Linked DNA regions of Homo sapiens: region 1 is linked to region 2. Evidence: fine-mapped expression QTL. A gene starts in region 2. The other region holds a variant in brackets. All regions are shown on one strand. Distances are from middle to middle.

The links.
Region 1: its variant is fine-mapped to the expression of NIPSNAP1 in whole blood (TOPMed, PIP above 0.99).

Annotation. Positions count from the first base shown.
Region 1 is chr22:29,431,874-29,434,895 of GRCh38, forward strand. It overlaps a transcript of RFPL1 not described here and the pseudogene RFPL4AP6. Among named protein-coding and RNA genes, the nearest start is that of RFPL1, 5.2 kb to the right of the region's middle. The variant C/G (reference allele first, on the strand shown) is at 1,750.
Region 2 is chr22:29,580,090-29,582,589 of GRCh38, forward strand. It overlaps NIPSNAP1 (nipsnap homolog 1), which reads right to left and starts at 1,024. Exons shown (of 10, transcript NM_003634.4): 1 at 896-1,024. The coding sequence starts at 993. RefSeq lists an enhancer at 185-797 and a silencer at 781-830.

The DNA.
Region 1 (3,022 bases), 150 kb before region 2:
AGTAGAGATGGGGTTTCACCATGTTGGTCAGGCTGGTCTTGAACTCCTGACCTCGTGATCTACCCACCTCGGCCTCCCAAAGTGCTGGGATTACAGGCATGAACCACCACACCTGGCCAAAGTTCTTAATAAGATAACTTACATTCTCTTTTTCTCATACCTCTTCAAAATCCAGTGCGCATTTTACACTGAAGGTGTGATACGCTAACTTACATTAACTTGATTGACTCTCTCTTAGCTAAGAAAGCTGGATGGATTCCATTCGGCTCCTTCATTTGCAAGACATTAAGGGCTCCTTACCCACTCCCTCCCTCAAGGACTTAACTTGTGCAAGCTGACTCTCAGCGCGTCAAAGAGTGCAATTAACTGATAAGATACTGTGGCAAACTATGTCCACAGTTCCCAGGAATTTGCTCAGGTGACAGTACTCTAAAGCCCCCTGCATTTGTGTCTGGAGCCCCCCTCCTATCACCCTGTGATGAATTTAAAGCCCCTGCACCTGGAACTGTTTGTTTTCCTGTAACCATTTGTCTTTTCAACTTTTTTGCCTGTTTTACTTCTGTAAGATTGCTTCAGCTCAATTCCCCCTCCCCTTTCTAAACCAAAGTATAAAAGAAAATCTAGCCCCTTCTTCAGGGCCGAGAGAATTCCGAGCGTTAGCGTCTCTCGGTCGCCGGCTAATAAAGGACTCCTGAATTAGTCTCAAAGTGTGGCGTTTCTCTATAACTCGCTTGGTTACAACAAAGGCACATCCCAATTCCAATAAGCCCCATTTGGGGTGCTCAAGAACCACATGTGGCTGGACCGCTGGGCCTAGACCCTTCACAACACCAGCTTCTCAACTGAAGAATCATGTCCTTCATTCCAACTAGCATTTCCGATATTAGAAGTTCAAGGCCATGACTCTTCTTATATGTATTTTATAGTGTTTTTATCACCTATCACTAGTGATTGTTTATAGCAGGCACTGATATGTCTCTATGCATGTAAAAGTGAAAGAGCCTAAAGGAGTATTGTCATTCAGTTAATTGAACTCCAATATCATGTACCGTTTCTGCAGACATTGGCCATGGCAGAACATTTTAAAGAAGCAAGTCGATGTGTCGGCTGCCTATCTTATCCTGAAAAACCCACTTACTAGCCAGGCACATTGGCTCACGCCTGTAATCCCAGCACTTTGGGAGTCTGAGGTGGGTGGATCTCGAGGTCAGGAGTTAAAGACCAGCATGGCCAAGATGGTGAAACCCCGTCTCTTCTAAAAATACAAAAATTAGCCGGGTGCTGTGGCAGTGCCTGTAATCCCAGCTACTCATGAGGCTGAGGCAGGAGAATCACTTGAACCCAGGGGCAAAGGCTGCAGTGAGCCAAGATGGCACCACAGCACTCCAGCCTGGGCAGCAGAGCAAGACTCCGTCTCAAAAAAAAAAAAAAGGAAAAGAAAAAAGAAAATAATAAAAACCCACATACCTAGAGTGTGGATATCTCTGCTGCTTCCGCTGTATCAGTTCATTTCCAAAGGAGCCCAATGGGGATGATGTATTGTGCGCCATCTGCTCTGTGGTCACTATAAAAGACATCACGCCCCATCTCCTGCTGGGAAAACTGGTTTCCAAAATCAAGGAAGTGGAGCCCCAGCTGAGAAGAATTCTATATTAAAACCCAAGGATGCGGAAGTTTCAAGGTCAGAAATCTGTATAACCTGCGCTCGGCCCACCAACAGCCTTGGAAAAAGCAACTGTTCAAAAGGCT[C/G]TCCATTAAATAGGGGCATTAGCTGAATTCTGGCACCTAAAATGTGTATGCCCACCCAACAACAGTTCTCAGCTGTGAGTATAGATTAGAGACAACAGAAGATTTTGAAGAAAATATAACATTTAAGTCATACCCTAGACCTGTGCTGCCCAATATGGTAGCCACCAGTGGCTATGGGGCCCTTGAAACATGGGTGTACCCCATGTGGAAGTGACAATAATTCTGGATATACAAGCTTATAATATGTTATTTAAAGTATTGTTGAATTTTTTTTAATGTCTACAGAAAAATTTAAAATTACCTGGAGATCTTTTATAAAATGCAAATTCTCCTTCTATTGGACTAGGCTGGTTGAGAATCTGGATTTCTGACACACACTCACACACACACACACACACATACACACAAATTTTTTTGAGATGTGGTTTCATGTTGCCCAGATTGGTCTCAAATTCCTCAGCTCAAGCGATCCTCCCACCTCAATCTCCCAAATTGCTGGTATTACTGACATAAGCCGCCGTACACAGCCTGATCTAATAGTATAATAAATAGTTTTTCCATCATCTAGATATTCATTAGATATCTATATTTGAACAGAGTCTGCTAAATTTTATGATTTTGAGAGTAAACAACAGACATGGTTTCTGCCTTCATGGATCTCAAGAAATCTTGAATAATCAAAATGTAAAAAGAATGCTTACTATGAACAAGAGGGATTTGTTACAATTCTATTTCAATCTTCTCTAAGAAATTCTACGGAATCAGGGAATGCAGGGAAGTTTCTATTTGCTGATTTACCTTTTTTCTTTCCACAGTGGATATGACGTCAGATATTGACACAGCCAACAATCGACTCATCATTTCTGAAGACCTGTGGAGTGTCCATTGTGGATTTCTTAGAACCGCACAGAGTATGCCGAGATTCAAACAAGTCATCTGTGTCCTGGGCTCCCCTCGCTTCACCTCTGGACACCATTACTGGGAGGTAGACATGGGGACAGGCAAATAATGGGATTTGGGTGCCTGCAAAGAATCTGTTAATCGACAAGAGAATTGTGTGGTCTTCAGAACTTGGCTTCTGGACTGTGGGTATGAGGAAAGAAAAGCTCTTTGCAGCCAGCACTGTGCCTTTAACCACCCTCTGGGTGAGTCCGGGGCTATGCAGGGTAGGCATTTTCCTGGATATGGGTATGACAATGATTTCCTTTTATAACATTAATGATGGGACTCATATCTTTACATTCACTAAGATTTCTGCTGCAGAGCCACTGTG
Region 2 (2,500 bases):
TGGCCTCACTTCTTTGGTAAATATTCCTTGACCATACACAGTCCTGAGCCCTCTGAGGGTGGGAGGCTGGGGAAACAGAGAAAAATGAGATCATGGTCTAGTGAGAGAGACAGACAAGCACCAAGTCATAACTGTGCAGGGTCATATATGCAGAGATGGGGGAAGTACAGGGCTGTGGGGACCAAGGAGTGAGGGGCTGCCCAGGGCCAGTCAGGGAGGCCAAGCCCTAGCTCAGCCCAGAGCAGGGCCCAAACAAAAGCCCAGGCTGAGAGCACATGGCCCAGCCAGACTCCCACTCCCAGGAGGCCACCAGTTGGGTGCAAAGTGCATGGCGCATTGGCAGGCCTGGGTCCCAGACCTGGTGCTGCCACGGCACAGCAGGGAGGGTGACCTTGGACAACTCCCATTCCCTCTCAGGTCCGTTTCCCCACCTGTACAGTTCGAGGTGGAGGAACAAAGGGTCTGTGCAGCCATGGCCCCTGGGGATCCCCCACTGCTCCCCTGCCATCATCTCTTTCCCACAGAACTTCCCGACGGAGGAGCTGACTACCAGAAGCCCCCAGTGGGTGTTAAATCACAAGCTACGCCTGGGAATGGGCCACTCCTCCTGTCTTCTGCCCTCTCCCACTCTCCAGGGCCCAGTACCTGCCCTTCTCACCATCTTTCATCAGGTCCCCATCACAGCCCGGTCCCAACCAGGACAAAGACCCTACCCATCCCTTTCTCACCTCCCCCATTCTTTGCCCAGACCCCTCCCTAGGCCTTGATCCTGCCCCGCCTCTAACCCCCAGATTCCAAGCGAGGAGTCTCAGCCCCTCCCCCACGACCCAGTCCCTGGCCCCCGCGCCTGCACCCCACCCCGCGCGCGTCTATCCCTGCCTGGCCGGGCTCTCACCGCGCCGCAGCTGCAGACGCAACGTCCCCAGCGCGAGGCCCCGGGCCCCCCAGCAGCCGCCGCGCCGTCACAGAGATGCTGCACAGCCGCGGAGCCATGTTGGAGCCGCAAAGGTTGCAGGAAGGCCCCGCCCCCAAGCCCTGGTGGCGGAGGCGGGGCGCGAATAAACTCCACCCCTCCGGCTCGCCCGCCCCCTCACTCACCCGGTCAGGTGGGCGTTTCCTGTGGGCGTCTCCAACTCCGCAGGTGCTGGACGGAAGTCAGGGTTCTAATCCTCTGCGCGCTCTGCGACCTTGGCAAGCCCTTTGCCCACTCTGGGCCTCAGGATCCACCTCGGTAAAATGGGAGCGTGGAACAATAATACCAAGGGTTCTTTTTTTTTTTTTTTTTTTTTTTGAGACGGAGTCTCGCTCTGTCGCCCAGGCTGGAGCGCAGTGGCGCGATCTCGGCCCACTGCAAGCTCCGCCTCCTGGGTTCACGCCATTCTCCTGCCTCAGCCTCCCGAGTAGCTGGAACTACAGGCGTCTGCCACCACGCCCAGCTAATTTTTTGTATTTTTAGTAGAAACGGGGTTTCACCGTGTTAGCCAGGATGGTCTCGATCTCCTGACCTCGTGATCTGCCTGCCTCGTGCTCCCAAAGTGCTGGGATTACAGGCGTGAGCCACCATGCCCAGCCTACCAAGGGTTCTTAACAAGGCTGTCCGGGATGTGCAGCAGAGGGTCAGTGTAACCACCCCATGGGTTCATTTTGCCCGTTTCCCAGACAGCGGATTTATCAAGACAGAGGAATTGCAATAAGAGTTTAATTCATGCAGAGCCGGCTGAATGGGAGACCGGAGTTTTATTATTACTCAAATCAGTCTCCCTGAAAATTCGGAGACTGGGTTTTATTAAGGATAATTTGGTGGGTAGGGGCCAGAGAGTGGAGAGTGCTGATTGGTCAGGTCGGAGATGCAATCATAGGGAGTGGAAGCCGTCCTCTTGTGCTGAGTGGATCTCTGGGTGGGGGCCACAAAACCGGATGATCCGGTTTCTTAATCTGTGTATCGCCAGCGGATCCATTGAGTGCAGGATCGGAAAAATATCTTGAGCACCAATCTTAGGTTTTACAGTAGTGATGTTATCCCTAGGAGCAACTGGGGAGGTTTAGAATCTGTGGCCACTACCTGCATGACTCCTAAACCGTAATTTCTAATCTCGTGGCTAATTTGTTAGTCTTACAAAAGCAGTCTGGTCCCCAGGCAAGAAAGGGGTTTATTTTGGGAGAGGGCTGTTATCTTTGTTTCAAAGTTGAACTATAAATTTGCTGCCGGGCATGGTGGCTCATGCCTGTAATCCCAGCATTTTGGGAGGCAAAGGTGGATCAGAAGTTTAGGTCAAGAGTTCAAGACCAGCCTGGCCAACAGGGTGAAACCCCGTCTCTACTAAAAATACAAAAAAATTAGCCAGGCATGGTGGCGGGCACCTGTAATCCCAGTTACTCGGGAGGCTGAGGCAGGAGAATCTCTTGAACCCTGGAGGCAGAGGTTGCAGTGAGCCGAGATCGCGCCACTGCACTCCAGCCTGGGCAACAAGAGCGAAACTCCGTCTCAAAAAACAAACAA